Homo sapiens: one gene and its partners. The protein of the gene in region 3 interacts with the protein of the main gene of each other region in a biochemical or structural test. Each region holds a gene or a part of one and is shown on either strand. Other genes may lie near its edges. The genes, in order: NCAM1, DUSP15, PLCG1, RAC1, KDR, TUB and SH2D1B.

Region 1 (4,030 bases), on a different chromosome or scaffold from region 3:
TATTCCATAGGAGAATGGTCTGGGCCGTGTCTCTCTCTGGCTGCACATGGCCCTGGCTGTTGGTGGCACAAGTTCTCAAACTCCACACAACCTCCTCCCTTCACTCTTTCTTAAAGTCAGTTGGGAAGCCTATTTTTGAATGGAAGATCTGGGTTTCATTCTTGAACATTGGAATGTACGTTTGAACTGAACTTTGTGGGTTTTTTTTTGTTTTTTGTTTTGTTTTGTTTTGTTTTGTTTTTTCAGTTTCTCTGCAGGTGGATATTGTTCCCAGCCAGGGGGAGATCAGCGTTGGAGAGTCCAAATTCTTCTTATGCCAAGGCAAGTGCCTAGTGCTCAGCTGCATTTTAGAACTTGCTTCAGAAACTCACTGGGTAGAGCAGGAGCCCTCAGGCCATGTGAGCTGGCTGGTCAAGCCACACCTAGAATTCTTGGCATTGCTCTATTACAGGGTCAATAGTATGGCCATTTAAGAGCCAGGGCCTCTTCCTTCCTTTTGCAAAAATCTGCCTCAACATAGCAAATCTGTCATCTAGACTTCACCTTGACTACAGAGGAAGTCTAGGAGTTTTCTTAGAAAAATCAGCACAACTTCCAGAATAGTGAATCATCCCCCATCTCCTATTCTGTATACATTCAGAGTTCTGTAAATGACAATGGAGAACAGCACTGGCTCAGAAACAATACTTCGGTGGATCTGTTTAAGGCTTATTTCTTAGAATTCCCCAGAGCTTGAAAATCTAAGTCTAAAACTTGCCTGTAGGTAAATAGAATACTGGTATGGCTTTTGTTGTGAGGACATATATCCTGGGTTTACCAGGTCTATTGTGAATATCGATATTCTGTGCCATGGTCCCCACCAGAGCTCTGAGATATGCCAGACCTGGTGACCTTGTTTTACATTTAGAAAACATGCCCCATTTCCACAGCCCAGATAATTGCCAGAAAATGTCCTGTGGAGGAAAAGGTTTCAAATTAAGCCTCAGATTCTCTGTATATGACATGACTGGGATTCAGAACATGGAAGAACCAGGAAAGAGCTGAGCTAGGTGTAAATGGTGACATTTAGCAAGCAGCTTTTGGCAGGGAGGGGCCTTTAAATGCTGTCATGATTTGCGTGGACGAGGTGGCTTGTGGCCGTCGGATGTGTTCACTCCAGCTTTGCCTTCATTACAGCAATTTCAATGATCTGGAGACGCAGCCGTGGAGCCCACAGCACATCTTGCAAATAGCGATATTTATTGAAAACATGATGGGCCCTGAAAGGAAGACTGCTTCATTTCCATACTAAGCATCTGTGCAGGGCTGGGTGGTGCAGGCTGAGAAGGGCGCCACGCGAAGAGGCAGGGGCCCATGCAAACAGGCAGGGCGCCGCCACATCCGCCGGATCTGAGCGCCCTTCCAGCTCAGTGTCCTGGGCAGTTTCAGTGTCAGAGCCCTGTTCCAGCTCAGTGCCGGGGGCAGCTCAGCCACCACAGTCTGTTCCTCCTCATTGCTGCCTGGGGAAAGGAAGAATGGGTGGTTCTGGCTACCTTCTTTGCAGCATGCAAGGAAATGAATTTGTCTGAGCAGGGAGTGACGAAATGACAGTCATGCCAGTTTGTGCAGGCAGATGCTAGAATAAATGTGGCTGGAAAAAATGAAATAAAAAGTGGTTGGAATCTGCACTCCTATACTAGCCAGTATTTCTCGCCTTCATCTCAGGAGACCCATTATCCAAGGCTTCAAAAACAAGCTGATCAGTAGACTCAGACCAGTTAGGCTCTGGCGCCCGAATCCTAAATACACTAATTCCCTTGGTTACCCGTTGTGTGAGGCATGTGTGTTCCTAGCTTAGTGCCCAGCACACAGTATGTTCTCAACAAGTATCTCTTCTCTTCCATCATTAGGGATAGGACCATGATAACAACTAGTACAAGTGGTTGTTGAGTTCTTTCCAAATATTGTAAGAGGTGTTAAGTATATAATAGTTAAATGCAGAGGCCAAAGAAGGGCTGCATGTCATTCCAGCAGCCATACTCACCCCTCCCTGATGTTCAAGCCTTGACTGATCTGTTGTTCAGTAACTCTTACTGATCAGCCACTGTCAGTCTGGAGGGGACTTATTAGTCTTTTCGACTTCAGTAGCTTAAAAATAATCTCTTCCTCTTTAGTGGCAGGAGATGCCAAAGATAAAGACATCTCCTGGTTCTCCCCCAATGGAGAAAAGCTCACCCCAAACCAGCAGCGGATCTCAGTGGTGTGGAATGATGATTCCTCCTCCACCCTCACCATCTATAACGCCAACATCGACGACGCCGGCATTTACAAGTGTGTGGTTACAGGCGAGGATGGCAGTGAGTCAGAGGCCACCGTCAACGTGAAGATCTTTCGTAAGAGCCTCCTTCTTCTTCTGCATTCTCTGGCCTCTCCTTGCCAAGGAGACATGTGGGTAGTGGAAAGGTGGAAATGATGACAGAAGGACCAGCTGAGGGCCTAACCAGTCCCATTCTCTCTCCCTAAGTCTTTTCTGACCTTGGCCAACCCAGAACTCACAACCCTGGTTCACACTGGTCACAGCTACTCCCCCACAGGCGTTCATTCTCAAAATTCAAATTACATAGTTCCCAGAGGGCTATTACGGGTTTCTCTATCCCTTCCCCAAATGTTGGCTGACTGTTCTGCAATTTGGGCTCCTCTCCCTTCTTATTTCCCTCTCCCCTGCTGGTAATGGAGCCCAGGGCTCAGTGGGGTGGGGGATCATTATCTGAACACTCTCTGCCACTCAGAGCAGGCAGTTCCTATTGCCTCTGAAACCCCATCTGTAGGTGGCATCTCGTTACCTTGTTATTTATATCATGCATCCATCCCAGTGGTTGGAGTAATGGTGGGTGACAGCTAATGGAACAGTATTGATTGCACGGTATTTATTGCCATTAAATGTGCTTTTTTCCTGTTCTTTTCATCAGCATTCTGTCTGCCGTAGGAAAGTTGGGGTGGGACTGGGAGTAGCAGTTCGAGTGGGAGACAAGAAAAGGACTGATGATTCTTACTATTCGTTGTGGAATGGATGTTCCACCAGTTCATTCTACCTATAACCTGTGCTTCACTGGCATCATCCTGCATGACAAGGAACCCTTGGTGAAGATATTCCTTTCATTCTGTAGACCCTTTTCTGCACAAAATGTGATAAATTTAGCACTCAATGAGCAGATATTGGTTGCCAAGCATTGGTAACCTATGCTTGGGCCAGCTGCTCTGCCTGACGTCTCTGAGGGTGCCCCTCTTATACAACTGTACATCAGGATCGAGACTTGCCCAGGACTCAAGTCCAGGTACCATGGCTCTAGTGAAAGGGGTTCTTTGTGAGAGAAGCAGCTGTTTTCCCTCACTCTTCTGTTCATCTTCCAGAGAAGCTCATGTTCAAGAATGCGCCAACCCCACAGGAGTTCCGGGAGGGGGAAGATGCCGTGATTGTGTGTGATGTGGTCAGCTCCCTCCCACCAACCATCATCTGGAAACACAAAGGCCGAGATGTCATCCTGAAAAAAGATGGTGAGACCTGAATTTCCTGGCATCTGCCTTTTCCCCAGGCCACCAAGTTCCCTAGCTTTTTCACCTGTACTGAGGCATTCCAGTCCAAACTCCAATTCATGTGTGCCCGAACCCTCATGTGGTTTCTGGGTCCTGAATAGATGCATATCTGAAGTTGGTATACTTAGGTACCTGATTTTCTCTCCAGTACGAAAGACAAATTTCTAATAGACATTTACTCTTGGCTGTATTTCAAAGCCAGGGACGCATTTTCTTATTTGGGCTTAAAACCCCACCCTATGATACTGAAGTTAGGAAAAAGGAAAGAGACTCAGCCACCTGCCTGCAGATGCTCTCTGACTGATTCTTGGATGAACCTGCCTCTTATCTCTTCTAGTCCGATTCATAGTCCTGTCCAACAACTACCTGCAGATCCGGGGCATCAAGAAAACAGATGAGGGCACTTATCGCTGTGAGGGCAGAATCCTGGCACGGGGGGAGATCAACTTCAAGGACA
Region 2 (4,671 bases), 9.3 Mb from region 3:
CCTGATGGCCAAGTGCGGAGGGAGCTCACTGCCTGCCCAGCTCTCCCTCTCACCCCACCACTCCACCTTGGCCCACGCTCTGCCGGCTCCCTGATCCTCTTGCTTCTGGGGCACATGCAAGTAACAGTACAGCATATCCCCATCCTTGCTCATTCTGTTCTTTCCATCCAAAACACCCTTCCCAGGCATATTCTTTGACCCAGCAATTCTGCTTCTAGGAATCTTGTCTACAGAAGCGCTTGCTCACACAGAAAGCTGTGTGTGGAGGATGATGTTCTCTGCAGTCCTGCTTATATCACAAATAGTTTAAACATGGGAACAACCTGGTGTTCATTAAAAAGGGACTGGATGATTAATGGTGTAGGCATACTTTGGCACAGTGTGCCGCCATTAAAAAGAGTTCTATATGCTGATGTGCAATGATGCCCACAATGTTTTTTTTTTTTTTTTTTTTTTTTTTTTTTTGAGACGGAGTCTTGCTCTCTCTCCCAGGCTGGAGTCCAGTGGCGCGATCTCGGCTGACCACAAGCTCTGCCTCCCGGGTTCACGCCATTCTCCTGCCTCAGCCTCCGGAGTAGCTGGGACTACAGGCTCCCGCCACCACACCCGGCTAATTTTTTTGCATTTTTAGTAGAGACGGGGTTTCACCGTGTTAGCCAGGATGGTCTCGATCTCCTGACCTCGTGATCCGCCCGCCTTGGCCTCCCAAAGTGCTGGGATTACAGGCGTGAGCCATCGTGCCCGGCTGATGCCCACAATGTATTTTTAAGGATACAGAATAAGCTTCCACTTTTGTTTTAAATACTATGTCCTTATCTACAAAGATATATGAACAAGGATGTACCCAACAGTGGCCCTCTCTAGGGGCTGCATACCCAGCATATGCAGATCTTTTATATTCAGAATGAATAACACATGTCCCCTCTATCTCCACTTCCTCATTCGATGAGCATTTACCGAGTGCTAACCATGTGTATACTTTGGCTGGGCACTGGAGGTCTGGGGCCAGCTTCGTGGCTCCTGCCCTTATGGGGCCTGCACACTTACAGAGGGTTCAGACCTTACTTGGCCAAATACTCACAGAAATCAAGGTGGCATGAGCGGCTGAGGGAGCTCCCAGGAAGGAAGGGACCAGGATTTACAAGGGTGAAGCACCTGAGCCCCTCCCTCTCTAAAGCTTTTTCTGACTCTGCAGATGGAAATGATTTTCCCACTTTGAGTCACCCAAGCCCTGGATCAGTCTGCCCCTTAGCATGTTTTCTTTTCTTTTTTCTTTCTCTTTTTTTTTTTTTTTTTTTTTGAGACAGAGTCTCGCTCTGTTGCCCAGACTGGAGTGCAGTGGCACGATCTCGGCTGACTGCAACCCCCGCCTCCCGGGTTCAAGTGATTCTCCTGCCTCAGCCTCCCAAGTAGCTGGGATTACAGGCGCCTGCCATCGTGCCTGGCTGATTTTTGTATTTTTAGTAGAGACGGGGTTTCACTATGTTGGCCAGGCTGGTCTCGAACTCCTGACCTCAGGTGGTCTGCCCGCCTCCGCCTCCCAAAGTGCTGGGATTAAAGGCGTGAGCCACTGCGCCCAGCCCCCTTAGCATGGTTTCTACCCAGCATGTTTTCTACCCAAGGTCTATGTTCAGCTCTGCCTGCCTGCCACCAGCCTGGAAGCCCCTGAAGAACAAGGTATCTATACATGGGTGTCCCCTCCTCCTGACTGAAGATTGTGGAAGGAATGGATGAGAGAGTGGGGAATGCAAAGCTTGCCGGCTCACCGCCCCCCCAACTTCCAGCTCTAGGCTGCCCAGCTGCTCCAGGGCTCTGGGGTGCGACAGTGTTGGTGCTCATGACCCTGCTCACAAGAAGGCCCAGCCCATCTCCAGGGACCTCTCCTCTGACAAGGAGGAAGTTATGGGGGGAAGAGTTCCCAGCTTCCCCGCTAGAAGCAGCACCCGCAAACAGACCTCAACCCAGAACCTCAGGGCCAGAAGAGTGCTCAGCAGCTGGTGGACCTTTTGTGCTGAGGAGGAGGCTGAGGCTTAGCGCAGGTGTAGACTTGCTCAGGTCCACAGCCCAGGCCCCGAGCCCTTTGCTCTGGCCCTTTGGTCTGGTGGTAGAACACTGGGGAAGGCTGAATGGCGGGGAGGGATGTCAGTGTCAGGCCCCCATGCTCCCTCCATGTCCCTTCAAGCCTGGGGACACTCGCCTGCATGTGCACCCCTTGTCCTCCATCAGCCTTTTCCCCCTCCCAGCCTGGGGCCGCTTCCCTGCCCCCAACCCCATTCCTGAGATGCATGGGCCAGGGCATGAATGGTGGACACAGGCCTGAGACAGGCAGAGTGCCATGGCCTCGGGACAGAGTGGGCAGTGCTCACCAATGAAGTTTCCGAGGTAGAGTCCAGGAAGTACCTAGAGGAAGGACAGGCAAGGGTCAGTGGGGCAGGGGCTGCACCCCCTTCCACCCCCAGGGCAGCTGGGGGGCCCACAGCCCCTCTCTGTCCCATGAAGGGTATGGACCTCAGGGCTCAGGGAGCACTCTCTTCCCTTTTGTGGGCCCTGAGTCCTCTGTGAGAGGGGTCTGGGGCTCTGGGGAGGGTAGGCTAGGGGGCCAGTTAACCAACCGAGGGAACCAAGGGAGGCCAGCTTGGGTATGAGAGGGGAGAGGAGGAAGGCAGGTCTTAGGAGGAGAGGAGAGGAGAGAGGTAGACTTGCAGGGTGCAGGGATGGAAATTCTGGGGCTGGGGAGGCAGAAAGGCAATGACAGGCAGAGGCGGGACAGGATGGAGAAACAGCCCCGGAGAGAGCCGAGGAGTCAGCGACAAGGGAGAGGGACACATGCAGACGGAGAGCAGGACTCACTGGGAGACAGCCTGGGAGTGACAGCCACAGCAAGACAGCGAGAGACACACAGAGTCACGGAGAGAGGGCGGACACAGCGGGGACAGAGACGCAGGGTCAGAGAGGGGGAGACCCGACAGCCGCGGTCTCGAGTCACAGGGACACGGAGATGCCGCCGCACGGAGACCGGCGAGAACAGAAGGTCAGAGGCGGGCGGACCGAGCTGGTCAGCGCCGGGCCGCGGCGGCCGGGGCGGGGACCGGGGAGGCTGCGCGGGGCCCGCCCCCTACCTTGGTCATGCCATTGCCCATGATCCCGGGGGCGGCGGTCCGGGTGCACCCCCAGCTCGCCGCCCGGGAAGCGATCCGGTCACAGCTGCCCTGACGGCCCAGGCCCGACGCCTGCAGCCTGGCGGGGAACGGGGGGCCTGGCGTCCGCGGCCCTGCCCAGCCCTGCCCAGCCACCGCCACCGCCCGCCGACCCCCGGCCCGGGAGGGAAATGGTGGTGGAGCCGCCGCTGCCACCGCCGCCGCCGCAGGCTCCTCCTACCCCTTCGGTCATGTGGGGCCCCCGCCTCGGGTCGCGGCGGGGGGCCGGACAAAGCCCCAGTGTGCCGGGCCCACGGCCCGCGGGACAACGGCAGTTTGTTGGGGCCGCGTGGGGCCGCCACCTCCGGAGGTGGGGGCGGGGGCCTTACCCCACCCTGGCACCGGCAGGCGCGGGCGGATGGGGGGATGTCGCCTAGAGCCCCCCGGCCGGCCCACAAACTCCCGTCCCCCTTCCGGCTCTGCCTGGACGTCCCTGCGGGCCCCGGGGGAAAGCACCCAACTTCTCCCGCCTCGGCTTCTAGCAGAAACGTGACGGGGCTGGACTTTGATCGCCGAGGGCTCTCTGCTCTTCAGAGTCTGCTTGGAACGGGATAAGTGGGTAATTCCTTCCGATACATCCTCTCCACCCGTGCAGAGACACCCTACCAACCAGCCTTCCTCCTTTCCCATCCATTCTCCCACCCTCCTGTTCACTCATTCACTCGTCCATCTTCCCATCCATTCATCCATCCTCTCACTCCTTCCTTCCATCCATTTCGGCCCCTAGGAGGGATGGTGCCATCCAGGGAAGCTCTGCTGGGACCAGGCACAACTGCCATTAGGTGCCCCAAGAAATTACAGGTGAATGTTGGGAGAGGGGTTTGAGGGAGGGTTCCAGTCTGAAGGAGACTACATCAGGATGTATTAATAGCTAGAGGTCAGGGTCCTGGAAGGGGTCTGGAGACCAAGGTTTGAGGCCCTGTTCACCTCTGACCTGCTAGATGACCCTGGGAAAGTCCCCGTGACCCCCAGCTAACCCTATCTGTGTTTCTGAGGATGTTGAGGTGAGCCCTTCCTGGCTTCTAGGACCAAAGCTGGAGAATGTAAAATAATCAAGACACTTCCTATAGGACTGAAATAGAAGCAGCTGCACCAGCTTTGTTCCTTCAGCCATCACCCCCACCCCTCAATCTATAGTAGTAGGTGACTGGGGATTGTGGATAGAGAGCAGGACAGAGAGAATCCACAGAGCCCTTTGAAATACAGTGATTGGAGAAAAATAAAACTGTTTCTTCCTCCCTCAAGTTCATAGCATACATGGGGCTGCCCGTCTCAGCTCTCATAAAAGCCCAGAGTTCTCATAAATACCAAATTATTCAGTAAATACTTACTGAGCATCTAGTATATGATAGAGACTAGGGACACAGCAGTGGGTAGAGATTGTTCCTACCTTCATTAGCTAATGGTATAGACCAGCATTGTCCAAATGAAATATAATGCCAGCCACATGTGCAGCCACATTTAAAAAGTAGAA
Region 3 (4,030 bases):
GCTTGGTTTTCTCCTCTGTAAGAGAGGGATAGTAACTCCTGCCCTCCATGGATTCATGGAGCTGCTGTGAAGTTCAAACAATACAACAGGTGAGAAAATGTTCCATGAACTCCCAATATGCTATTCCAATTCCAGAGTTTTTTGATGCCCCAGTCCTCTGTGTACAGACTCAGGGAAGGAACACAGAAAGCAAGTAGGAAACAGACTCCTAGCCCAGGTTGTTGGAGCAGCCACTTGTGGCCGAGCTTAGTGGTGGAAAAGATTGGAGCTCTGTGGTTAACAAAGGTGAGAGTAAAGGAAATGAATACTGTTAAGTGGCCACTAAGTGACAAATGTTGTGCTGGGTAGTTTTCACATAAAATCTCTTACTCTTATATATAATCTCCCTTATTATTAATATACAGCTCTGTGAGGAGAAATTACTTTTACAGCTAAAGATCAATTTCAGACAGGGAAAAGTAATCTGCCCAAGGTCACAGTAAGAGCTGAGACCTGAACCCAAATCTGACCAGCTCTAGCCACAAATCTCCAGGCACTTCAGCTCAATTACCAGCAAGGTGGGACTATCTGGTCAATGGTAGCCTGAAGCCACTCCTCACCCGTGGCTCCACCTTGAGTCTTGCCACCTGTAAACATGCTGCTCTCAGAGATTCCCTCCAAGGACGCACTGTTCCCATGCTCCTCTCAACAAGGCACTCTACAAGGGGCACCAGAACATTCCCATCCTCCTATCCCACACCCATCTCTCCTAGGACTCTCCTCACAGTCTGCAGTGACTTCTCTAGTTCTAACAAAGCAAGTGGAAAGGGGGAAAAATCAGTCTCCTAATATCACACCTTTGCAATCTCAGGCCTCACTCCCTTCCTCCAACTTATCATCTGTGGTCTCCTTGAAGCCACATCCCACAGGAAAAGGCACAGAGTAAGAAGAGATGCTGTGAGTTAACGGAGACTGACACAGAACAGTGACAGCAGAGGCAGGCCCTACCACATCGAGGCTGTGGCATTAGAGCACTTCCTCAAAGACAAGATCTCTCCAGATAGCGTCCTGGGCTAGGCACTTAGAAATAGGACAATATCATACCTTCACTCTACAGAAGGGGTTACCACCCAAAGCAGCTGCTTCCAGCCAACTGCCCTGTCTCCCTGCAAAACCAGCAGTGGGAAAGAGCCCTGACAATAGAGGGACTGCTGAGAGCTGCAAGAGAGGATGGGCGGGCCTCCTTGCCTCTGAATCAAAGGGCTTGGTGGCCAGGCACCAGCCCCTTAGGACAGCAGGTGCATTCGAACTCCTCCCCACCAGGTCCTCCTGAGAACTTAATCCTCATCTCTGTCCTGTCAGGGATCCTACGTAGTAAGCACTTACACTGTGCCACACTCCATGCTAAGCACTTTATACAGGTGCTAAGCACTTTATACAGGTTCTCATCAAATCCTCACAAAAACCTTATAAAATAAATGCCATTTAATACTATCCTTTTTACAGATAAGCAGCCCAGAGAGGTAGTCATATGCTTTAAGGTCACAGAGCAAGTAAGCTGCACAACAGGATTTTAATTCAAGCAGAGTCTAGGGCCCAAATGCTTAACTACTAAGCTCTGTCTCACCCCTCAAGACCCAGCCCTTCTCCCATCTACCACCATGGCATCCCCACCCTGCCTCAGCAAGAAGGTCTTGTCTGGGCCCTCAGCAGCTCTCTCCTGCAAACTGTGCAAACCGTAGGAGCTCACTGGCCTCCCTCCCCAACACCTGCCTGACAAACCACTGCCACTGTGGTCTCCCAGGCAGAGGCAAGTCAGTCCCACAACAGCCTCCGCTGACTCCCGTCGCCTCCAGGACTGAGTGTAATCTGCTGGACATGGCACACTAGGGCTATAGCTGTCTCCAACCAGTCCCAGCTTCCTCTCTACCACACCATATCTGTTCCCTACCCCTGCACAGAGTGATTCCCAGTTCCTTAGCCTCGGCACAGACAGGTGCCTCAGTAATTCAAGGCCTACCTCAAAGGTCACCTCTCCTTTAATGCCTTCCTGGCAGAGCTCCTCACAGTTCTTGGTAGAGGCCTTTATATTATGGTATGTAACACACAGGGTTATAATCATATGCCTCTACATCTGTCTTTTCCAAGAGTTCATCAATGGCACAAACCATGTCTCAATAAACTTTTGAATCCTTGGTGCCTAGCACTGGGCAAATGGGGAGGTATAATAATACTTATTGCAAATATTAATAAATGTGCCTCATTCCAAGAAGCTACCCAGAGCAAAGCTGGTAGCCAAGATCTCTAAACTCCAACTGAATCCTGTGCATCTGTGTACACACACACACAAGAGTCTGGAGAGAAGCTGGAGGTGTTGTGGGTCCCAGGACTGGGTGTGCTCAGCTCCTCCAGTTATCTGTGAAGCAGGCCCTTTTCCTAGGTTCACAGGAAACAGAGGATCCCAGCTGGGCGGGGGGGCCTGGAAACCCACACATCGGGGCAAGCCTGGGGTGCTGAGGAAACACTAAAAGGTCTGACTTCCCTTGGAAAAAACTACATCAGACAGGAAATACACAGGCAGGGATGGCTAGCTCTGGAGATCCGGACATGTGCTCCTGCCCCTCTCCCACTGGGAGTAACAGCCAGTACAAAGAAAACCCTTGATGACACCGGCCTGGGCCTTGCCCTCTCCCGTGCTGTGGGCCTAGCCCTCGGAGCAGGCCTCCTGGTGTGGTCTGCTCCCCAGCCACAGGGGTCAAGCCCCAGCCAGCTGGTTCCACTACTACCTCCCTTCTGAGCCCGCCTGCCTCATCAAGGCAGTTAGCTGTTTTCTTCCGCCACCCTCACCCTCTTCATCAAAGGTACTGCTCACAATTGTCATTGCCTGTTTTCATTTCCCTAAAAGCAAGCACCCATACTCCTTCACCTCAGAGGGCCTGGCATCTAGAAAAGTATCTAGTGAAGGATCAGCCAAAGACAGAAGCCTGGGGCCTCAGAAGTCCCCATGGACATGCTCAGCCAGTATTCAGAGTACCTCCACAGTGTCTACACCAGTGTTTACTGGGCCCACAAAGACCCTCAAATGGACAACCTCATTAAACACGAGTCTGAACCATCTCAACTCAGAAAACACCAGAAGAAAAAGTGTGGAGCCAGAGCCTAGAGAGGCTGAGGCTGTCTTGGGATACAAAAGCCAAAGTGGTCTTTGCCCTGTAATGCATGGTCTGAGCACAAAGGTGTCTCACAGAGGAGCCACGTGGACCACAGGGAACATGGGCTTGGGGTTGCTAGTCAGCCTCTGACTAGTGAGCTGGCCCCAGCTGAGGCCCTGGCACACACTGACACAACACCTTGGGCACAAACGATTCTCCATTTCCATTTGCTCATCTGTAAAATGGGACGAAAGGTCTCAATAGCACTCAGCTGGAACTCTACATAACTGCATTTTATTCATTTATGTCAGTATCTGCAACATAAAAGGCCAAACACCAACCTGGTTCCTGTCATACCACCAGGACAACCAAACTTGTCAACACCTAAGCACTTCCCCACCCCGCTTTTGAGCCAAATGACCACCCTAGAAATCAGGAGGTGTCAGCTCCATTTCACAACTGCTGACAAGAGAGGGCACAGAGTCAGGGCAGAAGAAGGTCTTACATATCAGTATGAGTGCTCCTTAAACCACACTGTCTCTCCCTCAGGTCTACCAACACCCTGAAGGTAGCACAGTGTCTCTCTCTTAGGCCAGGCTTCAGGCACTGCTGGTACCCTGGTAGGGTCAGCAGGAAAGGCCAGATACCTGAGGTGCTTGGGCAAGAGTCCAGGTGGCAGAAAACCCGGCTGGCAGTCCAACCTCCTCAGAGGCCGCAGGGATCAGAACCCACCAACAAGGAGAGCCCACGAATGGGTAGAAGCAGGGCACGGCTTCAGTGGAAGCCTCCATTAGTTAAGTCTGAACACACAAGCATCGACCAGACTTTTCATCCAGGCTCTTTTCAATCTGAGCCCCCAAAATCCAAAAGCCAGGGTCCTCCTACATCCTCTGCCTACT
Region 4 (3,500 bases), on a different chromosome or scaffold from region 3:
CAAACCAGTCTCCCAGAACTAGGTGGAAGATAGGAACATTTCTGCATAGGAGACTTGGAATGTTCTGGCAGCATTAAAACCCTGAGGCCCGGCTATGTTCTGGGAGAGCCCTTTGGCAGGCATCATTTACAGACGGGTCCTTTTCCTGTATGCTGTGGCTTCAACTAGGCTGTGTCTGAGAACTCGGATGGAGCACTTGAAAGTGCCCGTGGCTCCCGCCTGCCTTTGCGGTAAGGGACAGTGCAGAACATCTCCGGCTGTGCCAGCTGTTGTAGATTCTGGTGGGTGCTGCCATGGGAGGAGGAGCACGTTGTTGCCCCCCCTCAGGATCTCCCTGACCTCTGTCTTCACCATCGTTGAACTTAACGCCTGCTTTTGACCAGGTAGCGTGGAGTGTTTCAGTGGCATTTGTCATCGAAGATATGTTAGAATCTATTGTATGCTTTTGGATCTCTCCGGAGGGTTAAGACAAAATTCTAATAAAGAATCGATAAGAGGTTATATTGATTTTTGTTGTCCTCAGTCTGTACTAAACTCAAACCAAGTTCTCATGCATTACTAGGTTGGAGAAACGTACGGTAAGGATATAACCTCCCGGGGCAAAGACAAGCCGATTGCCGTATGTAAAACTTTCAGTCCACTTCAGTTTCAAGCTTTCTCTGTTCTCTCATTTCACTTCGTTTTCCTAGGATTTTTTATTAAGCCTCAAGCTCCTTGAGTGTTTTATATTTAATTCACTCAAGGTTGGGGTTTTGCTTGATGAAATAAACTTCATTAGAGTGTGATAGTTTACCCACCGGCTTGAATTAAAGCAGTTTGTGAACTGTGATCTTCTCCTCCCAAGTGAAAGGAGGGGACAGTGAGAGGGCCCCTCTCCTGGCTGGTTGGAGATGCAGATATGGAGACTCCTCCCGGAAGCCCACCTGGCTGTGAGCCGAGCCGGAGCAGGACTAACCTTGTTGCCGGGGCCTTCTTTCTCCGCTTGGGTGTCCCGTGTGGTGGGGCTGTCTGGGCGTGGCTGTGCAGTGCTGCTGAGCTAACCCCACCGTGCTTGAGATGGTGTGCTGGGTGCCGCGGTGATTCTTGGACGAGCTTGTGCATGCGCCAGCATTCTTCAAATGCCAGTTATAAAAAGCTGTTGTGTGGGATGTTTCTTTCCCTTTCAGGTACAAGGTATCAGCTGGAGGGTTGAAAGTGTAGCTTGGGAATTGTGTGCATTTCATAAAGTAGCATAATTGCCTTTTTCCAGGAGAATATTTTAGAAATCTAGCATTTTAGAATTCTTGGGCATTTTTAAATACAGGTGAATATTTGAATTTGGTTTGACACAAAATACAGAATGGATGAAGCATGCAGATGTTTGGCGTGTGCCCCGAAGCACCCTCTACTCTGTCCTCTGCACCCACCCTTTGCGCCTCTGCGTCAGCCACAGCTGCCCCGGGAGCGAGTTCTCCTGAGGCCCTGGCTGTGCTGACTCTAGGGCAGCGTGAGGGTGGTTGTCAGCTGTGAAGGTGCCACTTACACACTAAGTCCTCCTTCCTTGTGGAGGGAAGGGCTCAAGTAGCAAATATTGGAGCCCCCGCTTGGTGCTGGGAGCTGTGACAGGCAGCTCCTGAAGAAGCAGTTTAATTGGAACCAGTGACCATCTAAAACTGTTTGTACTCTAAACCAGATTTTACAGAAATATTGGAATCATACCTTTATACTTGATTTTTTCATTTTAGATAGTTAGGCGTAAAGGAAGCCTCCTGAGGGTCTGGTCTGATCCTCCTGATCCTTGAAGAGCTTCCAGCATCATTCTCCCTTCATGCTCCCCATTTTCATAAGTAACTGGTGGCTTGACATGCTGGGTTTGGTTTGGGAGCCCTCTGACAAACTGAAAGGGTGGATCAGGAAGCGTCTGACCACACCACTGGTAGACACGCTCTGCGTCCAACAAGTCCTTCCCAGCAACATGTAGAAAGCAAAGTGCATGCTTCATTCTAAGGTTGTTGTCTAAATGTTTCCCTGTGTTTCCTTTTTGTAGGATGTGTTCTTAATTTGCTTTTCCCTTGTGAGTCCTGCATCATTTGAAAATGTCCGTGCAAAGGTAGGTGGGGATTTAAAATGTGTATGTAAGTTATAGAATGATCCTCTCAGAAATAAATACTTTAAAATATCACTTAGCCTAGGAATTTTTAGTTATTTAAATTGGTTTTAGCAATTTGCTACTTAAGTACATGATTGGGTTTTTTTTTTTCTTTTGAGACGGAGGTCTCACTCTGTTGTGTCCAGGCTGGAGTTGTAGTGGTGACATCAGAGCTCACTGTAGCCTTGAACTCCTGGGCTCAAACAGTTCTCCTGCCCCAGCCTCCTGAGTTGCTGGGACCATAAATGTGCACCACCATGCGTGGCTAATCTTAAAAGAATTTTTGTATGGCTGGTTTTGTAGACCCTGGCTTGTCTCAAACTCCTGGGTTGAAGTGATCTTTCAGCTTCAGCCTCCCAAAGTGGTGGGATTATAGCTGTGAGCCACTGCATCTGGCCCATCAGCAGTTTATTTTATTTATTTATTTTTGAGAGAGTCTTTTTTTTTGTTTTTGTTTTTGTTTTTGAGATGGAGTTTCACTCTTGTTGCCCAGGCTGGAGTGCAGTGACGCAATCTTGGCTCACTGCAACTTCCGCCTCCTGGGTTCAAGTGATTCTCATGCCTCAGCCTCCCGAGTAACTGGGATTACAGGCATGCACCACCACGCCCGGCTAATTTTGTATTTTTAGTAGAAATGTGGTTTCTCCACGTCAGTCAGGCTGGTCTCGAACTCCCGACCTCAGGTGATCCGCGCGTCTCGGCCTCCCAAAGTGCTGGGATTACAGGCGTGGGCCACCGTGCCCGGCTGAGACAGAATCTTGCACTGTCATCCAAGCTGGAGTGCAGTGGCACAATCTTGGGTCACTGCAACCTCCCCCTCCCGGTTCAAGCAATTCTCCTGCCTCAGCCTCCTTAGTAGCTGGGATTACAGGTGCCCGCCAACACACCTGGCTAATTTTTGTACTTTTAGTAGAGACGGGGTTTCACCATGTTTGCCAGGCTGGTCTCGAACCCCTGGCCTCAAGTGATCCACCCGCCGCAGACTCCCAGAGTGCTGGGATTTCAGGTGTGAGCCACTATGCCCGGCCTAATACGTGGATTTTTAAAGCTTCAGGTTCTGGTTCAGAAGTTTCCTGGGTCTCATTAAAATAATGAGGCACTCAGAATTGGTCTAATAAAAATAACGACCATTTCTTTCTACTCCAGTCTCTTTCACAAACTTCTTAGTGAAAATGACAAGTGAGGCCCTTCAGTAGGGGCATTTTCAGTGGAGATAATAGCGGCAGACCTGAGACCTTGGGCTAGGTAGTTTATTCTCATTTCTGAACAGATGATGAATTTTCTCAGATGACCCTAAGAAATTGTTTTACCAAAAACAAAGTGATCTATTTGCTTTGGGAGGAACTCCCTTCCTTTTGTTTCTCTTCCCTTC
Region 5 (3,145 bases), on a different chromosome or scaffold from region 3:
TGCCATTGAAAACATTTTCTAGTTGCTGCTGAGTGACAGGGGTTCTCAGTCCTTCCAAGGAATGTGGTTTTGATGAGTAAAAAGCAGCGTTTGATATGTCTGGCTTGACTGCACACATGCTTCAAGTTATTAAAGTTTAAAGTTGCTCAAGAGCTTTATTACAACCATACACATGCCCCGTAATTCCCAAATTGCCACAATAGGAAAAGCACAAGTGAAATTTAAGAACATCCCAATTTCCTTGAATATCATGCAAGTGGCCCTTTGGCGCCTGTCACTGTATACAAATTTGTCAATCTGCGAGGCCATAAACATGTTCCATCAGTTGGGGCCTTTGCATAACTCGAGAGAACTGCCTTTCATCTCATTTGAGGCTTGAAAGACTTGGACCTGAGTAAGAGGACTTATCTGCAACTACTAATTCATGCGAGTACCTGAAAATAGACCTTGTCCCTGTAAACCTGCTATGCTGATTAACAACTGGGAGAGATACGGGGCTGCGGTCTCCAGGGAGATGGCAGCCATATGGAGTTGGGAATGGGGTGAGGGTAAAAAGCAAAAGAATTGTCTTCTCTCTGCCAACTCCTTTGTTTGCCATTTCTTCTGCAGTGGAATGGTGCCCAGCAAAAGCAGGGAGTCTGTGGCATCTGAAGGCTCAAACCAGACAAGCGGCTACCAGTCCGGATATCACTCCGATGACACAGACACCACCGTGTACTCCAGTGAGGAAGCAGAACTTTTAAAGCTGATAGAGATTGGAGTGCAAACCGGTAGCACAGCCCAGATTCTCCAGCCTGACTCGGGGACCACACTGAGCTCTCCTCCTGTTTAAAAGGAAGCATCCACACCCCCAACTCCTGGACATCACATGAGAGGTGCTGCTCAGATTTTCAAGTGTTGTTCTTTCCACCAGCAGGAAGTAGCCGCATTTGATTTTCATTTCGACAACAGAAAAAGGACCTCGGACTGCAGGGAGCCAGTCTTCTAGGCATATCCTGGAAGAGGCTTGTGACCCAAGAATGTGTCTGTGTCTTCTCCCAGTGTTGACCTGATCCTCTTTTTCATTCATTTAAAAAGCATTTATCATGCCCCCTGCTGCGGGTCTCACCATGGGTTTAGAACAAAGACGTTCAAGAAATGGCCCCATCCTCAAAGAAGTAGCAGTACCTGGGGAGCTGACACTTCTGTAAAACTAGAAGATAAACCAGGCAATGTAAGTGTTCGAGGTGTTGAAGATGGGAAGGATTTGCAGGGCTGAGTCTATCCAAGAGGCTTTGTTTAGGACGTGGGTCCCAAGCCAAGCCTTAAGTGTGGAATTCGGATTGATAGAAAGGAAGACTAACGTTACCTTGCTTTGGAGAGTACTGGAGCCTGCAAATGCATTGTGTTTGCTCTGGTGGAGGTGGGCATGGGGTCTGTTCTGAAATGTAAAGGGTTCAGACGGGGTTTCTGGTTTTAGAAGGTTGCGTGTTCTTCGAGTTGGGCTAAAGTAGAGTTCGTTGTGCTGTTTCTGACTCCTAATGAGAGTTCCTTCCAGACCGTTACGTGTCTCCTGGCCAAGCCCCAGGAAGGAAATGATGCAGCTCTGGCTCCTTGTCTCCCAGGCTGATCCTTTATTCAGAATACCACAAAGAAAGGACATTCAGCTCAAGGCTCCCTGCCGTGTTGAAGAGTTCTGACTGCACAAACCAGCTTCTGGTTTCTTCTGGAATGAATACCCTCATATCTGTCCTGATGTGATATGTCTGAGACTGAATGCGGGAGGTTCAATGTGAAGCTGTGTGTGGTGTCAAAGTTTCAGGAAGGATTTTACCCTTTTGTTCTTCCCCCTGTCCCCAACCCACTCTCACCCCGCAACCCATCAGTATTTTAGTTATTTGGCCTCTACTCCAGTAAACCTGATTGGGTTTGTTCACTCTCTGAATGATTATTAGCCAGACTTCAAAATTATTTTATAGCCCAAATTATAACATCTATTGTATTATTTAGACTTTTAACATATAGAGCTATTTCTACTGATTTTTGCCCTTGTTCTGTCCTTTTTTTCAAAAAAGAAAATGTGTTTTTTGTTTGGTACCATAGTGTGAAATGCTGGGAACAATGACTATAAGACATGCTATGGCACATATATTTATAGTCTGTTTATGTAGAAACAAATGTAATATATTAAAGCCTTATATATAATGAACTTTGTACTATTCACATTTTGTATCAGTATTATGTAGCATAACAAAGGTCATAATGCTTTCAGCAATTGATGTCATTTTATTAAAGAACATTGAAAAACTTGAAGGAATCCCTTTGCAAGGTTGCATTACTGTACCCATCATTTCTAAAATGGAAGAGGGGGTGGCTGGGCACAGTGGCCGACACCTAAAAACCCAGCACTTTGGGGGGCCAAGGTGGGAGGATCGCTTGAGCCCAGGAGTTCAAGACCAGTCTGGCCAACATGGTCAGATTCCATCTCAAAGAAAAAAGGTAAAAATAAAATAAAATGGAGAAGAAGGAATCAGACATAATTTCCATGTGGTTGTTTTACATTTTTACTGGTTTTCTTACTCTTCTTATAAGGGATATTTTCATAAACTGATTATATATTTTACAAACCAATAAATGTATTTGTAGTACAAAGTATGAGGGTATAATATCACCACAACTATTTTGAGGATAAGTATGTCTGGTTTAAAGTTTAACTGCTTCTTCCCTCTTCTTCTTCATTACAAAGAATTCACACACACACACACACACACACACACACACACACACACGCCACGCATACACCCCCCAACACCCACACCTCCTCCCAGCCCCCCCACACCCACACATCCAACCCCCCATACTCACACTCACACCCCCTCACAGTCACACCCACCCCCACACACCTACACACCCACCAGCACACACATACCCACACACAGATCCACCCACACACCCACACCCACCCACATACACACACCCCCCCACATGCACACCCCCACACACACCCACCCCCCACACACCCATCCACACACCCACACATCCAACACCCCCGCACTCACCCACACCCCACACACACCCACACACAACCCACCCCCCACAGTCACAACCCCCCTCACATTCCCCCATACACGTCCTACACACCCACCACACACCACCCCCACACATC
Region 6 (4,678 bases), on a different chromosome or scaffold from region 3:
GCAGAGTCCAGGCCAAGCATCCCAGCAGGCAACAAAACAGCCCTGCTTTCTGCCTTCTGCACCCCACTCCCAGGTGTTTTATTTTGTCTGCTCTCTGTCCCCAGTGACAGTGACAGCTCTTGGAGGTTGATAAATAATCAGAGGTCATAGTGTTCAGAGAGCATCAATGTTGTGCCCGACAGAGATGGATCTGACCTGTCCTGAGCTCCAGAAGCCTGGAGAGAGAGGCCATGTGTGTGTGCATGCATGTGTGTAGGTGTGTGTAGGTGTGCGTGTGTGTGTGCATGTGTGTAGGGGTGTGTGTGTGTGCACTACATGAACTGTGATTGGCCAAAAGGAGGCTGAGGGTAAGTGCTGTAGACCCAGACCTTTTGTGTGTGAATGCTAGCTTCATCATTGACCAGCTGTGTGACTTTGGGCAAGATCCTTGCCTTCTCTGTGACTCAGTTCCTCTGCTGTGAAATGGGTATGCTAATGGTGCCTACCTTCTAGGGTGGCTATGAGGATTAAACGAATTATAATATGTACGTAGCACCTAACACAGCTCCTGACGCCCAGCAAATAATCCAAATATTGTGGGTTATTGTGTTTTATAATTAATGGGCAAGAGAAGGCAAGGCTGAAGGGCTGGGAGAGCCCTGGGGTGGGGGTCTGGCTGTAGCCCCAGGGCAGCAGGATGAGCCCCCTCCCTCAGCCCCCTTGGCTGTTCTCACACTCTCTGCGGGGCAGTCCTGACCGCCTATTTATCATCAGAAGATCCCCGCACAACACTCTTCTGGCGCGGTTGGCGCGGCAGAATCCAGGATGCACACGAGGACGCCCACGGGGCGTGTGGGGACCGTGCCCCTCCGCAGACCTCTCCCGGATCACCTGCTCCACACGCAGGCCTTGGTGACCCCTCAGCCTGCTGCTCCTTGCTTCCGCCCGCCCTGCTGTGGGTCCCGCACCTTCTCAGTGTGCCATGCCTTGCATTCAAGCTGGTCCTAGTCACAGCCAGGACCTCCTCAGCGCGCAGAGACTTTCAGATGATCTTTGTAGGGGTTTTTGCCTCCGGTCAACTGCGCCCCTTAGGAAGGGCTTTGGAGGACACAGATCACAGAACAGTTTCAGCTCCACCACTTCCTAGCTTTACGGCCTTGGGCATCTCAGCATTCCTATTCTCTGGGTTATAGGGATATGATGTTTGTCTCTCAAGGCTACTGTGGAGATTACATACTAGAAATTTGCAAGGGCTGGGAATGCAATAGACCGTAAATGTTCCCCTTCCCTTGACGCTATAGCTTAGATGGGAGGGAGCCACTGCTGAGGAAACACCTCCTTAACCCAAAGACAGAGGGTTCCCCAGGCGGGGGTGTGGGAACTCGGAGGTGGGGGTGAGGGAAGGCCAACCTCCACGCTTCGGCCCGGAGGTTCCCCCGCCTCTTCCTGCACGACTGGATTCCTTCTCCATCCGCGCCTCCGGCCCGGTCCCTGCCCCGCCAAATCCGCGCATCGGTTTCCCATCCCATAGCGCAGATAGGTAGGGCAGGTACACAGGGAGGTGTTCGAATGATCCCCGTTTCACAGAAGACGAAACTGAGGCTGGGAGGCCTGGGGACTGGCCCGGCTGCAGCGCCGCCGTTAGCCGAAGGTGGGAGCCGGCGCGGTCACGCGCATGGAGCGTGGATCGCGACGATTTCGGGGGAGGGGGCAAGGGCGCTCCGCAGGCCCTGAGCCGGCCGGGGGGTGGGGTCTCTGCGGGGCGGGGCGGGGCGGGGCGAGGGAGAAGGGGCAGGCCGCCGCTGCCACGCAGTACTCCCGCCTTGGCGCCAGAGGGGCGCGGGACGGTGCGGTCGGCCTCCCCGCCTCCACGCGCGCGCACGACCCGCGCACTCCCGGAGCTTCGCCCATCTCGCCTCGCCGCGCCGCGCAGGCAGCCGCTCGCAGAGCCAGCAGCCGGGGCCCTGGCGTGCAGCGCGGGCCTCGGCGGGGCCCAGCGCCCCGGCCCGGGAGGATGCGGCCCGGGGCGGCCCGGGAGCTGAGCAGGGCCCCCGCGCCGGCCCCTCCGGGCCCCGGCCTCCAGAGCCGCAGCCACCGCCCCGCCCCCGAGAGACATGACTTCCAAGCCGCATTCCGACTGGATTCCCTACAGGTACGCGGGCGCCGGGCCGGGGCGCCCACCACTCCCGACTCGGGACGTGAGCTGGCTGGGGATACGCGGCCGGGGCGCAGGGCACCGCTGCCCTCCCCACCTATCCCAGCACTGGGGCGCGGGTTGGAGTCGCTGGTCCTTCCTCCCTCAACTTTGAGGGCCCCTGCGGACTGCTCCCGCCTGCCCCGCTCCACCCCCTTATCTGCCAGGGTTGCTGGAAGGGGCCTGTGTGGGCCTTGTTGGGTCAGGCAGCACCATGTGGCCGCCTGGGGAAGGAGTCCACACTGCTCTGAGCCCCCTCCTAGGCCCAGAACCCCAGTCACACGCCTGTGCAGGGTGCGCGCACACGCTCATACATCTGCACGCATGCACCCACAGGACGTCCCTGCCTTGGGCCAAAGACGCTCCTGCTGGTCGGTTCACACTCTCAAAGCATGGATCCGTGAAGACAGTTATTCTGAACCAAGAGCACACCAGTGGTCATGTGGACATGCACCCGTATATTCTACACACAAGAATTCTTGGGCTCACAAAGACACATGCCTGCATATCTGTGCACGTCCACCTCCTGTATCTGGAGAATAACTGACACCTGCTTCTCACTCACAAGTGCTACTCAGTCTCTTTCAGACACTGAATAATCTACTTGCTAGCAGGTCTATACCTAGACACACACCAGCTCACAGTACATAGAACTGCCCTCACATGCAGAAAGGCACTCAAGAATCCAGGCACACTCAGGGAAGCCCCCCACCCTCTGCTGCCAGGCACTGTGGTCTATCTCAAGGATGGCTGGGCTTTCCCATTTGCCTGGGAAGGGGGCGGGGAGGTGGTCTCTGGGGGGCCCCTCACAGGTGCAGGTCTTTCCCTATCCACTCTACTCCATTCTATTACCAGGGAAGGGAGCTCATCGCCATGGCAGCGCCAGATTCTTGGCCACCCATTGGCTCCTTGGTTGCCATGGGCTACGGGGCTGTCTCTGTGGAAAATGGGTGCTGGACTCCTAAGGCCCACTGTGTTATTGTCGACCCAGGTGCACGTGCTAGCGGACGGCAGGATGAGATCCTCAGGTCCCGCCTTGTAACACAGCTTGCTCTCTGTTAGAGCCTCATACCAGTCACTGATAGAAAATAGTTCTGACAGGGCTCTTCTCTGAGTCTGTCCAGACAGCGTCCCAAATGGAAACCAGCTGAAACCGCCCAAGGCTTCTTAAAAGCAGATCCTTCTGAAAACAGGCACGTGGCCTGGGAACTCAGGGTTTCTCTTGAGAATTGTTACCTCTAATCTCAGCTCCTGTGGGGGATTCAGGGGTTTCCAGGTTATTTTGTGTCTCTCCCCACAACCACCAGCAACACCCTCACACGTGCGCACATACAGGTCACCCACAGGCTCTCCTGCAGACACATGTAGTCACACTTCAGTCTCACATGGATTAGGGAGCTGTTTCCATCATGGAACCAGGGACTGGGGCTGTGCTGACTGAGAAGAGCTGCTGCGCCAGACAGACGTCCAGGCTGGGGCACAGGTAGTTTCTGGAGGATCCTGGCCTTTCTTGGCACATGTGGGCTGAGGACCTTCTAGAAGACAGTGCAGCCCCATGGAGCGTCATCAACCTTTTCTAGCCACGCGGCAGAGGTGCCTGGGCGGTGCTTGTGGGCTGAGTGGACTCCGGTGCTGTGGAAGTACCTGTGTGCGGGGGTCCAGATGGCAGGGTGGTGGCCATGGACCGAGGAGGGTGGGAGGGGCAGCACTTACGGCTGTGGAGATTATGACGTGGTTAGGATCTGGCAAACTGGAGGTTGGGCCAGGCCAAGACATGGTTCTAGAAAGCTTCTCCCAGGGAGCCAGGGACTAAAGCCACTTGTAGAGAGTGTGCAGGGGTCTTAGAGAAAATATGCCTCAAACGGAATGGCTTAAGCCTGTTCCTGGGAAAGGTGGCCCAGGAAGGTAGAACTGTCTCTAGGAAATGATCCTGTTCTAGCAAGTGCCTAGGGCCCTGGCATCCTGCAAGGAGTGATTTGGCACTTGCCTCAGCCCAGGTCCAACTACTATCTCCCCTCCACCGCCACCCCTCCAATTCCTTTCCTGGGCCGCAGACTCAGCCCTGAAGCATAGAATCCTGCCTCCCTGGAAGCCTGGCCCCGAGGAGCGTCTCAACACCCTTATAGCCCTGCACTGCTTGCTTTCCCCATGCCTGTCACTCCACCTCCTCGTTCTGTTGTAGAGAGGGGGGTGTGTAGCTGGAGGCAGGCTATGTCAGCAGTTGCCAGGATCCCCCCTGCCCTGCTGGGGTCTTTCTGGGCACGCACTGAGTGTGGCAAAGTACTGGAACTGGGGTGCAGACTTCCAAAATGGGAGACTTGGGCTGAGAGGAGGAGATTCAAATTGCCTCTTGCATTAACTGGGCTGCTGATTGCAGTCAAAGCCACATGCTGTCTGATCACAGAGAAAACTGGGGCAGAAGACAGACAAAGCATTTTACTTGCAGATGGGAGTGGGGGCAGGGGGTGGCATGCACGTGCTTTGACTGGTGTGAGGTTTCCCTAA
Region 7 (4,030 bases), on a different chromosome or scaffold from region 3:
GAAGTGGGATATTTTAAAGGATTTACATACAAGGTTCCTAAAATGTAGTTTGGAAACCAGCTTTTGGAAAAGGAGGGTGGGATAAGATCATGGAGTTTTAAAAGAATGGTTCTATAGATAACAGGGAAACATGGATGGTTTCTGAGCAGGGAAGTGAAAAGACTGGTGAATTTAGGAACTTCAATTTGACGTGGAGAACACAATGAAGCTGGGAAATGATGGCAACAGAAACTGTTGTGTCTCTGGACGGGAGACGGTGAAGAGCTAGTTGTGCTGGGGCAAGCAGTGGGAAGGGAAAAAACAAGAAGGTGCAAGGACAGACCTTGGCCAGGATCTCAGGGTATATGGTCAATATGGGATTCTCTTCCTTCCTTTCTTTCTTTTTTTTTTTTTTAGACAGGGTCTCACTCCAGCTCCTAGGCTGGAGTGCAGTGGTGCGATCATGGCTCACTGCAACCTCAACCTTCTGGGTTCAAGAGATTCTCCTGTCTCAGGCCCCCTGAGTATCTGGGACTACAGGTGCGCACTACCATGCCTGGTTAATGTTTAAATTTTTTGTAGACATGGGGTCTCGCTATGTTGCCCAGGCTGATTTCGAGCTCCTGGGCTCCAGTGATCCACCCACCTCAGCCTCCCAAAGTGCTGGGATTACAGGCATGAGCCACTGCACCCAGCCTATATTGGGATTCTCTTTGAAAATTGATATTTATTCTCAACTGTTCTGTGGTGCATCAGCCCATCTTGCATATTCATCTAAAGCAAAGGTCACTAAGAGATGCTAAAAAATGGGCCAGGCGTGGTGGCTCACACCTGTATTCCCAGCACTCTGGGAGGCCGAGGCGGGCAGATCACTAGGTCAAGAGATTGAGACCATCCTGGCCAACATGGTGAAACTCTGTCTCTACTAAAAATACAAAACTAATTAGCTGGGTGTGGTGGCATGCGCCTGTAGTCCCAGCTACTCAGGAGGCTGAGGCAGGAGAATTGCTTGAACCCAGGAGGCGGAGGTTGCAGTGAGCCAAGATCGCACCACTGCACTCCAGCCGGGTTACAGAGCGAGACTTGATCTCAAAAAAAAAAAAAAAAAGAAGAGAAAAAAAGAGAAGCTAAAAAATGAAAATAAACCAAGTGGAGAGGCAAAAATAAATATTTGTTAAGCCCCTGCACATGATCAGGTCTCACCCACCTCCCTACACATGTCACTGAAAGGCAAACAACATTTCATTCACCCTCAGGCTTAAGGCTTAGGTCAAGTGACCCCTGAAGCTATCTCCTCATAGGGCCTTGTAAAAATGTATTATCATACAGATAAGTATGGACTATTAAATTCTAGTTGTTCAACAAATATTTGAATTCTCTCATATGTCAGACAGTGTGCTAGACACTCGGTTGATGCCTTCAACACAACTCAGAGCCTAGTGGGGAAAATAAAGAAGTAAACAGACACAGTGATGCATGTGATAATTATGATGATTGGACTATCATTAGGGCACTGTAGAGCTGACAGCAAAAAGGGGAGAACCAGATATTGGAGCTGAGACTTTAGGAGAATAAGTGGAACCTTCATTCATTCAACAAGCATATACTGAGCACTTATTATGTTCCATGCGTGGTCCTAAGCATTGGTAATACAGTGATAAATACTACTGGCAATGTTTCTGCCCTCATGAAGTTAATTTCAGTAAGAGGAGAAAATATGATGAAAATGAAACAGAGTCATATGACAGGGAGAGACACAGCTGCTGCTTTCCATTGGGTACAGGAAAGGTTTCTCTGAAGAGGTCACATCAACCAATTCATGCTTCAAGATACAACCCTTTGCAAGCAAAGCAAGAATTACTATTATGATACAAGTGTTAGCCTGCTTGTCTTCACTGACACAGAAAAAGTTACCATGTAGGTATTATCTATGAGCCAAACATTTTGCTAAGCATGGTACATGCATTATCTTATTTGTCATTTGCAATCCCTTTGCGGTAGGCGACATGATCACTATTTTGTGAGAAAATAAACTGTAGCTTCTTATTTAATAGCTTGCCTAGGGCCAAATTGCTAATATGTTATTACATTCCCTCTCTTACCAATGTCCCCAGCTTCACTGAAATATGTTTCAGGTAATCACCTTGGATCTGTGTTATAAAATGCCCAAGCAGGGGACCTGAGGGCTTGGGAGTGGACTCTGATATGCAGTGTCCCCTTCTTCTCTGCTGCATTAAAATGGGTCTCCCCTGGACACCCAGCTTTAAAATTTCTCTGTTTTGTACTCTTTCCCTTTATTTCTTAGACTGGCCGACACTTAGGGAGAATAGAAAAGAACCTACGTTGAAATATTGGGGGCTGGTTCCCCCGATACTTCAGGACTTTCACAGAGCTAAATATTTAGTGATGAAAATACTGTGAGGAAGGTTAGAAATAAAAGAAGGAGGTCACAGAGAGAGCTGACCTAGCAGCATATGGCACTAACCAGAAAGCTATGTGGTAACTGTGGACAGGAAATGTTTTCTGATCTTACAATGTAATAGAGTGTCTAGAAAACTCCAGTGTGTAAAAGGTTGTCTGTGTAGTGTGACTTTGTGAGTGTCTAAACTGTCTGCCTTTATCATCAGTAAAATTAAATGGAGTAGATATTAGGAGGTGCAAAGGATTCATCTGCAAGTGTGAAGAAAAGGAGGACTTTGCAAAGCCATAGGAAGGCTGCAGGTGAGGAAGACCTGAGCCCTAACCTACTGCATGCTCTCATTAAGAATAATAATGGCAATGTCTATCTATTGCCTTGAGAGTCATTTATGAGTCTCAGATTCTGAGACTTTTGCAAGGATTGTAGAGTACAGAAAGAAAAGAAATGATCCATTTTGTTGTGGTGGTTTATCAAGCTAATGAAAATTCATTTTAGAAAATCAAATATAGAGAAAGGTATAAAAAACAAAACAAACTATATCAGTCTCACCACTCTGAAATCACCATTTTTAATATTTTGGCATACATCTCTCCAGACTTCTCTGCGCATCTATAAACCAATATATGTACATAAATGGTTCATTATACATGATGGCTTGCAACCTGTTTTCTCCATAATTGTAGGTCTCTTTCCCCATCAAAGAAAGCAGGTCATCCCCTTATGACTGCTTAGTATTTTATTGATTTGATATATCATAATGTATACATATCATACATTAGGTTATTTTCAATTTTCATTTGCAATTTAGTCCAGTGGACTCAGTGTAATTTGGAATGATTAACATTTTTGTACTTACATCTGTGAAAGTTTGCCTTACTCCCTAGTTAGGATAAAATCCTAGATGTTTAAAAAAATCTTCATGCACACTGAAAAATTAGTACCACAAAAGGTTGCACCAAGATACACTGAGATCAGGAACAGTGATAAGGCCAGAGGTCAAAAGTCTTAAAATATTTCTTTGTTGACTTGGATTTCCCACTTGCATCATGGCATGGAAAAATGCAGAACACATTGTTGATATTATAGGGTGCAGTCGATTCCATTTCCTTCAGCTGACCTTTTGAAGGTTAGTTAAAATAAAAACTTGAACACAAACAAGTTTCCCCACAACAATGGCCACAACATGAGACCGTGCTAATCTGTGGGCTGTTCATGCGTTGAGCAAGGACTCAGAGATCCGTGCACAGCACCTCATGGAACGATCACTTTGAAAGCTAAATAGATAGAGTAAAACAATTCAAAGATATGGGAAAACTTAGAGGTCCTGTATTCCAGCCTTTTTGAACCTCAACTGAGAAATTAATGCCTAAGATTTTTAAATGTTTTTTATAAGTCCAGTGTATTTCTCATAAATGACGACAACGATTTCCATAGAATAAACAAAAAGGTAGGCTCCACTGGGTATCAGTCTCACACAGAGAGTCAAGACACCACATATTTATTGAGAACATAACTGCAAAAATAGGAAACACTTTTTCTATCTGAGGCCAAAAACCAATCATGAAAACAGCAAAAGCACATATGTATAAGGAATTAAAATTTAGTTTATATATTAGAAAGATAAATTATATT

Evidence for each region.
Region 1: the proteins of PLCG1 (region 3) and NCAM1 form a complex in vitro, tested with the Homo sapiens proteins (one study listed by BioGRID).
Region 2: the proteins of PLCG1 (region 3) and DUSP15 interact in a biophysical measurement, tested with the Homo sapiens proteins (one large-scale study listed by IntAct).
Region 4: the proteins of PLCG1 (region 3) and RAC1 form a complex in vitro, tested with the Homo sapiens proteins (one study listed by IntAct).
Region 5: the proteins of PLCG1 (region 3) and KDR form a complex in vitro, tested with the Homo sapiens proteins (one study listed by BioGRID).
Region 6: the proteins of PLCG1 (region 3) and TUB form a complex in vitro, tested with the Homo sapiens proteins (one study listed by BioGRID).
Region 7: the proteins of PLCG1 (region 3) and SH2D1B interact in a biophysical measurement, tested with the Homo sapiens proteins (one study listed by IntAct).

The regions. Positions count from the first base shown.
Region 1 is NC_000011.10:113,202,133-113,206,162, forward strand, and holds part of NCAM1 (neural cell adhesion molecule 1 isoform 2 precursor), read left to right. Parts: intron 1-246; coding exon 247-321; intron 322-2,153; coding exon 2,154-2,372; intron 2,373-3,390; coding exon 3,391-3,534; intron 3,535-3,910; coding exon 3,911-4,030.
Region 2 is NC_000020.11:31,867,198-31,871,868, forward strand, and holds the start of DUSP15 (dual specificity protein phosphatase 15), read right to left. Parts: upstream 3,331-4,671; 5' UTR 3,141-3,330; coding exon 3,120-3,140; intron 3,035-3,119; exon of another isoform or gene 2,613-3,034; intron 2,593-2,612; exon of another isoform or gene 2,509-2,592; intron 2,401-2,508; coding exon 2,367-2,400; intron 2,204-2,366; exon of another isoform or gene 1,956-2,203; intron 1-1,955. Other genes in the region: probable tubulin polyglutamylase TTLL9, read left to right, coding at 3,930-3,998. UniProt on the Homo sapiens protein: May dephosphorylate MAPK13, ATF2, ERBB3, PDGFRB and SNX6.
Region 3 is NC_000020.11:41,140,177-41,144,206, reverse strand, and holds part of PLCG1 (1-phosphatidylinositol 4,5-bisphosphate phosphodiesterase gamma-1), read right to left. Parts: intron 1-4,030. UniProt on the Homo sapiens protein: Mediates the production of the second messenger molecules diacylglycerol (DAG) and inositol 1,4,5-trisphosphate (IP3). Plays an important role in the regulation of intracellular signaling cascades.
Region 4 is NC_000007.14:6,398,100-6,401,599, forward strand, and holds part of RAC1 (ras-related C3 botulinum toxin substrate 1), read left to right. Parts: intron 1-562; coding exon of another isoform or gene 563-619; intron 620-2,026; coding exon 2,027-2,089; intron 2,090-3,500. UniProt on the Homo sapiens protein: Plasma membrane-associated small GTPase which cycles between active GTP-bound and inactive GDP-bound states.
Region 5 is NC_000004.12:55,077,628-55,080,772, reverse strand, and holds the end of KDR (vascular endothelial growth factor receptor 2 precursor), read left to right. Parts: intron 1-609; coding exon 610-832; 3' UTR 833-2,292; downstream 2,293-3,145. UniProt on the Homo sapiens protein: Tyrosine-protein kinase that acts as a cell-surface receptor for VEGFA, VEGFC and VEGFD. Plays an essential role in the regulation of angiogenesis, vascular development, vascular permeability, and embryonic hematopoiesis.
Region 6 is NC_000011.10:8,079,418-8,084,095, forward strand, and holds the start of TUB (tubby protein homolog), read left to right. Parts: upstream 1-1,793; 5' UTR 1,794-2,093; coding exon 2,094-2,131; intron 2,132-2,467; exon of another isoform or gene 2,468-3,582; coding exon of another isoform or gene 3,583-3,656; intron 3,657-4,678. UniProt on the Homo sapiens protein: Functions in signal transduction from heterotrimeric G protein-coupled receptors. Binds to membranes containing phosphatidylinositol 4,5-bisphosphate. Can bind DNA (in vitro). May contribute to the regulation of transcription in the nucleus.
Region 7 is NC_000001.11:162,405,472-162,409,501, reverse strand, and holds part of SH2D1B (SH2 domain-containing protein 1B), read left to right. Parts: intron 1-4,030. UniProt on the Homo sapiens protein: Cytoplasmic adapter regulating receptors of the signaling lymphocytic activation molecule (SLAM) family such as CD84, SLAMF1, LY9 and CD244. In SLAM signaling seems to cooperate with SH2D1A/SAP.